Regions from separate parts of the Homo sapiens genome. Here all the other regions are reported to be linked to region 2. Evidence: microRNA targets listed by miRTarBase, many of them from high-throughput screens and not tested one by one. Region 2 holds a microRNA gene; each other region holds the end of a gene's coding sequence.
The links. Region 2 holds the annotated microRNA hsa-miR-495-5p (GAAGUUGCCCAUGUUAUUUUCG, at 2,266-2,287, shown strand). A microRNA usually pairs through its seed, bases 2 to 8, with sites in the 3' UTR of a target mRNA and lowers its output. Matches are read on the target gene's strand: a 7mer-m8 pairs with bases 2 to 8, a 7mer-A1 pairs with bases 2 to 7 and ends in A, and an 8mer does both.

Region 1: the mRNA of SF3B1 is a reported target of hsa-miR-495-5p. Seed matches in the 3' UTR shown: 7mer-m8 at 2,369-2,375.
Region 3: miRTarBase lists KIAA1586 as a target of hsa-miR-495-5p. The part of its 3' UTR that is shown has no 7-base or 8-base seed match.

Annotation. Positions count from the first base shown.
Region 1 is chr2:197,389,554-197,392,812 of GRCh38, reverse strand. It overlaps SF3B1 (splicing factor 3b subunit 1), which reads left to right. Exons shown (of 25, transcript NM_012433.4): 25 at 352-3,029. The coding sequence ends at 510. Among named protein-coding and RNA genes, the nearest start is that of SF3B1, 44 kb to the left of the region's middle.
Region 2 is chr14:101,031,503-101,034,761 of GRCh38, forward strand. MIR495 (microRNA 495) reads left to right here and starts at 2,253; the gene lies at 2,253-2,334. It overlaps LOC124903407 (mucin-2-like), which reads left to right. Exons shown (of 5, transcript XM_047432049.1): 5 at 1-2,980. It overlaps MIR543 (microRNA 543), which reads left to right and starts at 485; the gene lies at 485-562.
Region 3 is chr6:57,054,187-57,057,445 of GRCh38, reverse strand. It overlaps KIAA1586, which reads right to left. Exons shown (of 4, transcript NM_020931.4): 4 at 2,221-3,259. The coding sequence ends at 2,583. Among named protein-coding and RNA genes, the nearest start is that of KIAA1586, 9.1 kb to the right of the region's middle.

The DNA.
Region 1 (3,259 bases), not on the chromosome of region 2:
TGCATGCATTAGGTATTTGTCCTAATGCTCTCCCTCCCCTTTCCCCCCACTGCCTGTAAGTTAAAGATTTTTAAAAGATTACTTAGCAAGAAAAGTAGTGTATTGAATTAAGTTACTTTTCCTGATTATCATTAGGGTATATTGTGCCATATGGTAGAACAATTGTGTGGTGACAGGGGAGTGAGTTTTGTCTCTTCCATTGCAGCTTAAGAGCAGTGTAATTAGTAGGTTCCCCCCCCCCCAACTCCCCAAGGGAAATAATTTTGAATCATATCTTTATGTTTTCTTAATTTTGTTAAGGTTATGTATGTTCTTAAAAATTGAAATAATGTAACCGTTCAATTATTTTAGGGTCTGTTTCACCCAGCCCGGAAAGTCAGAGATGTATATTGGAAAATTTACAACTCCATCTACATTGGTTCCCAGGACGCTCTCATAGCACATTACCCAAGAATCTACAACGATGATAAGAACACCTATATTCGTTATGAACTTGACTATATCTTATAATTTTATTGTTTATTTTGTGTTTAATGCACAGCTACTTCACACCTTAAACTTGCTTTGATTTGGTGATGTAAACTTTTAAACATTGCAGATCAGTGTAGAACTGGTCATAGAGGAAGAGCTAGAAATCCAGTAGCATGATTTTTAAATAACCTGTCTTTGTTTTTGATGTTAAACAGTAAATGCCAGTAGTGACCAAGAACACAGTGATTATATACACTATACTGGAGGGATTTCATTTTTAATTCATCTTTATGAAGATTTAGAACTCATTCCTTGTGTTTAAAGGGAATGTTTAATTGAGAAATAAACATTTGTGTACAAAATGCTAATTTGTGTGTGTTTTTTGAACATGACTTGTAAAATGCGGAACTTTGATAAAGTATTGGTTTATGTGGAATAAGTGGCTTAATTTCATTTTCTGTCACATGGTTTATAGAAAGTAGTTAGCTGAATAAAAACTATATAAAGTGATGGCATCTTTGTCAAAATTCCATTGTTGTGTTAATAATGACAGCAAGAAGAGTAGCCTCAGGGGATGTTCCCCTCAAACTAGCACAACCATTCCATCATCGTAGAAAAGTAGCACTTTTGCTAAACTGTCTTGAATATTTTGTACTTACATAGCGCCTTTCATCTCTTGATTTCTCAAAATGCTTTATGAACACATTTAAAGAAAGTGGTTTAAGTCTTGTCCAACACTTGACAGGTCTGCTGTGTTTAGCAAGTGAGGAATTTAACTTTACTTCAAAACTGCTTTCTGCCTATTAGGAGTGAGGATACCTAAGTAATGCTGATAGAACAGGACAATGTTGGGCTTTTCTCCATGTTATAAGCCACTACTCAGCAATGCATCAGTAAATACCTATTCACCCACTGTATGCCAGCCACTGTGCTTATATGCAGGGGATGCAAAGGTGCATGAGACCTGCCCTCTACCTTTAAGAACAGTATAATGGAGAAGGGGAGACAAACCTTGTGACAGATTCCTTATGTACTGTGATAATACACAGTGGCAGCAGCTAAAATGTCTAGGTTTGCTTAGCTTTGTATTCAGTAATAATAAGTTGATCTAAGAGTTCAGCATAAACTGAATGAAATGCCATTTAATGGTAGAGGAACCAAGCATTAAGGCAGTACTACACTTAATTTTTTAAGCAAATATGTAAAGTATATTTTCAAACTTTTCTAATGTTATGGCCCCAAATTTCTTAGTTTTGGCCTTTTTACTACCTATACTATTTTTACTGTTTTGTTTTGTCTCCATGTGGTAGTACTTCTGTGAACTCTAAAGGGAAAAAAAATTCTGCAAGCAGCATTAGTATATAACTACTACTGTAAGTAAAACTGCCTATTGACACTTTAGGAGTTCCTGCTTCAGAAGCTTAGTTAAGAAACAGCTTGTGGCCGGGTGTGGTGGCTCATGCCTGTAATCCCAGCACTTTGGGAGGCTGAGGCGGGCGGATCACGAGGTCAGGAGATCGAGACCATCCTGGCTAACGCGGTGAAGTCCCGTCTACTAAAAATACAAAAATTAGCCAGGCGTGGTGGCGGGCGCCTGTAGTCCCAGCTACTAGGGAGGCTGAGGCAGGAGAATGGCTTGAACCCGGGAGGCGGAGCTTGCAGTGAGCCGAGATAGCGCTGCTACACTCCAGCCTGGGCGACAGAGACTCCGTCTCAAAAAAAAAAAAAAAATTGACTTTCAACAAATTGATAGTGAGCATTAAGGGTTTCCAAGTTGGATTTGTAACTCCTCATCATTCCTTGTATGACAACTTTCTGAATATATGTCACTATGTAGTAAAATTAAACACTCCAAACTCATCTTTCTGTTGTTAGAAGTTTTCAGCGGTACTTCCATGCAACTTTAAATCTCACTGCTCTCTATGGTTGATGTCAAATGACCTTCAGTAATGACTGAGAATTGAATACAAATAGATTACAAAGCCAAAATTTGATGTTAAATGACTCAGGAAATTTTAGTTGTATTTTCAATTCAAGTACTTAGTAGCCTACGTTTGCTTGGCCTCTGGTTCTTTATGGAAAATAGGCTTTGTAGTGGCATTGTGGAGCAAAGGAGACTGTTACACCTTAATTAACTTTTTTTACTGATGCAAATAATTTGAGGATAGAGAGGAGGGAAGTAGTGAAAGCTATGACCTAAAACATTGGGACCAAATAGAGGCTCACAGATATTTGGATTATTTTATGTGCTTATTATTAAATAAGGAAAGCATTTTGTGATATGTGGAAGACGCTATGTGAAGTTTTACCTATCTTCTCAAAGACCTTTTCTTTTGTATTTTCTTTTGGTGTTTCTTAAAGCCAAACAAAGAAATGTTCTTAAGGAGACAGGGTGGGTTTTTCTGTGGGCCTTTGTTGGTTTTTCTGTGGGCCATCGCCCTCTAATGGAATTGATCTCTGGCTGTTTGATTTTTTTCATATTGTATTTTTAAAATTTGTTGTACAGTGCCCTGTGAGCACCAAGTACCACTAGATGAATAAAACGTATTATATCTAAAGTCTTAGTAGACCAATTTTTAATCTTAGTTGACTCTGTATTGTTATCACACTGCACTCTGTTGTGGTTGTGCCATTTTTGCAAAATTGAGCTCTTTCGGTTGTTTTCGAAATAAGGGAACTTAGTGTTGAAAAACCAGAGAACTTTTTCTTTAATAAGAAACTAAAAAAGTTGCAGCCACATAGGTTCAGTTTGGCTCTTTGGTTTCCAGTGGCTCTCAAATCCCCTAAG
Region 2 (3,259 bases):
TGTTTGAGGCAAATGTTAAAAAATCCCTTGCGCTACCCATTCTATGACGACTCCCTTGGCTCAGAGGCTCCATCAGGGCAGACACTTTGCTGTTTGTCCCTAAAGGGTGGGTGGTAGATCTCATCCATCTTATCTGGGGAGTTATTGTGACTCTCCTGGTCCCTCCTCATGTATCCTCAGGAGGACTTTTAGGATGCAAAATCACTGTTTCTGTGCCATTGTCATATTCTGTGCTACTGGAGGAGACTTTTTGTTATTGAGAAATTGAACACATCGTGCTCACAAGCAGCTCCAGGACACAATGCCACCTGTGCAGAGGGGGCAGACCTGTTAGATGTCTCCCAGGTCTTGAGGGGGTTGTATGCACGGCCATATCTTTGTCACCGGTTGCCCGGTGCGCATCAGGACCCATGTGCTCTCAGGAAGCCCGCAGGAGTGATACCAGCCGCGGAGAAGCAGTGTTGTCAACGGTGCTGACGTGCGGTACTTAATGAGAAGTTGCCCGTGTTTTTTTCGCTTTATTTGTGACGAAACATTCGCGGTGCACTTCTTTTTCAGTATCCTATTCTGCCTTGAAGACGTCTTGGTTTGGGTGCAACTTCAGGGAAGGCACATGGGCCCCTGTAGTGGACGCTGATCAGGACCTCCCTACCCCATGTCTTTTCTCCTTCCTAAATTTCTCCTTGTTTTTTTTTTTTTTTTTTTTTTTTATGAAAGCTCCCGTCTTCCCGCCGTGTGCTTTGATTGCATTGACCCTGCCCCACTTCCTCCACCAGCCCAGGCTTAAGCGAATCTCTTGATCTCTTCTCCTTTGCCACTGCAATTGCTTCCGGAATAGGCCCATGACCCCACTGGGCCAGTGATAGGCAAGGAGATGCTTGCTGCAGCTTCTGGGAAAGAAACTGTTTCTCCCTTTCCTGTGATAGCTGCCAGAGTAGACACTGTCTATTCCATTCAGCTGGGAATAGACAGTGAACTTTGACGTGAGCTTCGAAGGTCCCACAGCCGTTTAAGGACTGAGAGGAGAGGGCTTGGTGCCACGCAGACACAGCAGAGGGAGTCTGTACCATGAAAGGCATCTTGGAGACCTAGAGAAGAGCCTGGATGATATCATTTGAGTCCCTAGATCAAACCCTGCCTGAAGCTTGCTCTGTCTCTGTACTTTTTAGTTATATACGTCTATAAATCCCTTACTTGTTTAAGCCAGTTGGAGTTAGATCTTATCTTACTTGCAATACAAACAGATGATACCACAGTGTGTTTTCCAGTGTGACTGGGAAAGCCTGCATTTTTTTCAATGATGTGTTTCTCACGGTTTGCCTATCTATCTTCAGTGTCCTATTTAAGGCAGGGTTTTGGTGGAAGGTGACTTTTCTTATGGACTTATGCTTTCAAAGCTTTGTCTTAGTGATTTAATTTATGGTTGACAAATGATGCACAATTACCGTGTTTTGTGTCCAGCAATGGGTCACTGGGTCCTCTCTGGAAGGCCTGATGGATGGTGGGCCCCAGAACTTCTGCCCCGATTCACTCTCCCTCGAATCCACCTCTCTCTGGGAGGCTGCCCTGCAAGTGATGTGGACTTGGGGAAGCCGTTGTCCTTTCCTGGCCCCTGCTGTCCTTTGGCTCTCTGTGGGTTGGCTGTATTTGTCACAACTCACACTTAACTGTCAGTGTTTTAGAACCAAGCCATGCCTCCAGGGAACCCGGAGCACTTTAGAGAGGAGGTGCAGTGGTCAGCACCATGCAAGGTGCACAGAGAGATGGGTCCACCGAGAGCCGGGGCTGCCTTGGTGGTTTGTTTCTCCTGATTCGATATCTTTGTCTTCCCATCTCCTTCCTGGAACCATGGGCTCATGGAGGAGATTCTATTTTTGGGTCCAGGACCATCCCATTTTCTCTGAAGTGATGCTCTCCATGAGCATTTGCAGGGTTGATAGTAAACATTCCGAAAGCCGTCTGCCCTGATTATTGAATTCTGCCCATGAAGACTTCCTGGGATCCCGAAGTAGAGGGAGTCTGGGATCGGTTTGCTTTATCCGTGATGACTGTCCGCCTCTGCTCAGTGTCAGCCCAGCCCTTCGAAGCATGTCCCCCACCTCCCCTGGGGTGAGCCAACTTACCTGATGCTTTTAGGCTTAATTGAGCATAAGTTTGATTGGCAGCGTCTGCCCGGCCCTGCCCTCACGCCCTGACCCTCAGTGTCCCTTCACGCCCAGGTGTGCCTCTGGCAGGGAGGACGTGCTCATCTCTGGTACCTGAAAAGAAGTTGCCCATGTTATTTTCGCTTTATATGTGACGAAACAAACATGGTGCACTTCTTTTTCGGTATCAAATATCTCCTTGAAGTGCCTCCATCCCCGACGGGACCCTGAGCATGGGACCTGGTGTCACTACCTCTCTTGGTATGTACATGGAGGATTTGTCCTGGCAGCCCCTCGGTGACTTTGTGTGTTGGTGGGCTCAGGGACCATGCTCAGTCCTCAGTCCTCAGTCCACGCCCACCTCTCGGACAGGCACAGTTGGCGAGGCCTCAACCACATGCCAGTTCCCCGCTGCCAGGGAGGCTGGGGAGATGCACTTCCAGGCTCCATTGAGAAGCGTTCCCCAACATTTGAGAAGAGTTCAGATCATAGCAGCCAAGAAAAAAATAAAAAAGGAAGCAGCTGCCACAACAACAAAAACAAATAAGCAATGAAGACCCCTGCCCCCATCCGCTCTCTCCAGAGGCTTGAGGGGATGGCTGAAGGGGACATGAGGACATGCCATCTGGGGGACTGCCACCCGCACCTCCACAGAAGAATTGATTGGGGGTAGCAATTGTGGCAGAAGGCGTCCCTGTGGTTCTGGGAGATGGGATTTCTCAGAGTGGTGATTTACTGGAGCCTAATCCTCCCTGCCCCGCTCTTTCTTTACTTTTCTTTTCTTTTTTTCTTTCTTTTTTTTTTGACACAGAGTCTCGCACTGTCTCCTGGGCTGGAGTGCAATGGCACGATCTTGGCTCACTGTAACCTCTGCCTCCCAGGTTCAAGCGATTCTCTTGCCTCAGCCTTCCAAGTAGCTGGGATTACAGGCGCCCGCCACCAGGCCCAGCTAATTTTTTGTATTTTTAGCAGAGACGGGGTTTCACCATGTTGGCCAGGCTGGTCTTGAACTCCTGACCTCATGATCCACACCCACCTTGGCCTCCCAAAGTGCTGGGATTACAGGCATGAGCCAGTGCGCCCAGCCCCCGCCCCACTCTTTCTAGGTGCCAGTT
Region 3 (3,259 bases), not on the chromosome of region 2:
ATTGAAATTATTTCTTCATAATTTTTAAGTCCTATGAGACTCAATGTAGTGTGTTACTTGGGTAGTTTCTCAAATTATGAAACTGTTCTAAAACTACAGAAATGTACTTATGATTTTTCAGATTTAGAATCAATTAATCTTTAATATTGCTAGGTCCTATATTCTAATAGCAATTGTTTGGTGCTTAACTAAAGGCCTTGTACTTTTTTTTTTTTTCTGAGACAAAGTCTCGCTCTGTCGCCCAGGCTGGAGTTCAGTGGTGTGATCTCTGCTCACTGCAACCTCCGCCTCCTGTGTTCAAGCGATTCTCCTGCCCTAGCCTCCCGAGTAGCTGGGACTACAGGTGCATGCCACCAGGCCCAGCTAATTTTTTGTATTTTTAGTAGAGATGGGGTTTCACCATATTAGCTAGGATGGTTTCGATCTCCTAACCTCATGATCCACCTGCCTCGGCCTCCCAAAGTGCTGGGATTACAGGCATGAGCCACAGCACCCAGCAAGGCCTTGTAATTTTTAATAAAACATCTTATTTAGGCTTTTATTCATAATTTTCTAACAATTTCTTCAACTGAAATAATTTCACATTTATCCATTTAAAACTAGTTCTCAGCCAGGCATGGTGGTTCATGCCTATAATCCCAGCACTTTGGGAGGCCAAGGCAGGAAGGCTGTTTGAGCCCAGGAGTCCAATACCAACCTGGGCAACATGGCAAAACCCCATCTCTACAAAAAGATATAAAAACTAGCTGGGTGTGGTGGCATGTACCTGTATTCCCAGCTACTTAGGGGGCTGAGGTGGGAGGACTGCTTGGGCCCAGGAGGAAGAGGCTGCAGTGAGCCACTGCAGTCCAGCTTGGGTGACATAGCAGGACCCTCCCCTCTCCCATCCAAAAAAAAAAAAAACCCTAATTCTTTCATGCAAGAATCTCAGCTATTTTGCTGAGCATGGTGGCTCACTCCTGTAATCCTAGTACTTTGGGAGGCTGAGGCAGGCGCATCACCTGAGGTCAGGAGTTTGAGACCAGCCTGGCCAACAAGGTGGAACCCCGTCTCTATAAAAAATACAAAAAAATTAGCTGGGCATGGTGGCAGACACCTGTAATCCCAGCTACTTGGGAGGCTGAGGCAGGAGAACTGCTTGAACCCAGAAGGTGGAAGTTGCAGTGAGCCGAGATTGCACCACTGTACTCCAGCCTGGGTGACACAAGACTCTGTCTCAAAAAAAAAAAATTAGGCAGGCGTCGTGGCACACTCCTGTAATCCTAGCTACTCGGGAGGCTGAGGCAGGAGAATCACTTGAACCCAGGAAGTGGAGGTTGCAGTGAGCCAAGATTGCGCCATTGCACTCCAGCCTGGGTGACACCACAAGACTCTGTCTCGGGAAAAAAAAAAAGAATCTCAGCTATTTCACATCTGGCCAAACTTACAACCTTAGTTCCTTCTAAAATTGTTTTTAAAAACTCTTGTTAATTCTGATTTTAGGTGACTAAATTTCATTGATTCTTTTTGGCATATGAAATATAATTTACCCAATTCATTTTGCATCTGCTGAAGTCTCAATTTTCCTACTTTGTTTCTTAAATAGCAGCTTGTTTTGCTCTGCCACAGCAAACTGCAATTGCCATTCATTGTCAAATCTGCAACATACCTTCTTTGAGTCTGTTTACTGTTCCAGTTGTACTAGGTTCTGCATCGCCACTTGATTCTTTTTCAGTATGCCTTCATTTTAAATTTAAAAATTTGCTCATATTCATGTGTAAACTAGAAAAATAATTTAATCATGATTAAAATAAGTATTTCAATTACCAGTTATAATTTACACAGGAATCACTGTAATTCCTGTTGTCTGCATAAAATATTCAGATAAACATGATGTTACATCAATTTGTAGAAAAAATAACTTGCATTGAATCCATCTGCTGACAGCAGTATCATATCTATCAGCAATATGTTTATATTCAATATTGGAAATGACACACAAGTTTGACAGGCACACTACAACAACCATATCTTATGCAAGGTAACAGAGTAAAATGTATTACTGAAAAACAGTAAAGCTAAGCAGAAAAATATTTCACATTGTTTCAGTTTTCATATTTAAGTAAAAGTAAATAAATAAAAATTTTACTTTTAGCCCTAAGCTGATCAGCCACATGTAGCTAGTGGCTACCATACTAGATAGCACAGATATGGAAATGAGAAAGACAAGAGCCAAAAGGCTTACAGTTTTTATTCCATTTCTCTTTTATTTAATATAACCTCCAGGGCTTAGAACTTAGCTGAGTCCTGCTATTTTTTGCATCCTTACTTAAAGTAAAACAGTACAAAATTATAAACGGTGTTTGTTCTGTACAGAACTTCATGGAATATGTATTATGACCCACTCTAGCAAACATGGGCCAATCTCTAAAAAACTATAGCTTCTAAAACCAATCTTCAAGATTATCTTCTTAAAGAACGCCTTTTAAACAGCAACATGCTGATAAAAGTTTAACTGGCTTTCCAAAAAAAAAAAAGACCTTTATGTATATAAAGGATGTGTAGTACATAATTTACAGATGACAAAAAACGTATACAATATTCTATTTTAAGTTCCATATAGCCAATTGATTCTCATGGAAGACTTTTGTTGACTTTTGCCGAACTCTTGTATCTGTAGCCAACCTGTGGTTGCAATTTGACCAAGATTTTACAAACGGTGTTGCATCCCAATCTGCTAATTCTTTCCCCAGTAAATTTATTGTCATTAAATCTGATACATGATCTATTGTTAAACTATTTCTCACCCTTGTACAAATTATGTTCATTAAATTGAAACCCCTTTCAGCTTCAGCACTATTGATTGCAATGGTGCTAACTATCTTTTTAGCTTTGTATATAGTTGTAGGAATTGAAACATTGTTTGATTTTATATTATTATTTACAAATTCCCGAAAATCATTCAAATCAACTTCATATTTTAAAATTTTACACAAATGAAATAATGTTTTTTCACCAGCTATCCATGGTGAAGTTATTTCTTCATAAGGCCATGTGGAAGGTTCCAGCAAATCAAAGTAATTAAAAATATCTTCATGGTTTCTGTCAGATAAAAGGCGTAGGTTCATGTGCTGAATTATATTGTCTAGTAATATACTCCTAGGAAGAGCATTAAATTTATTGTTTTTATTAAATGGAATATCTTTAAACTTATCTGACTTGATCAAATCTTCAATTTGAGATTCATACTTTCCAGTACCAATTTTTAAATTTTCCAAAG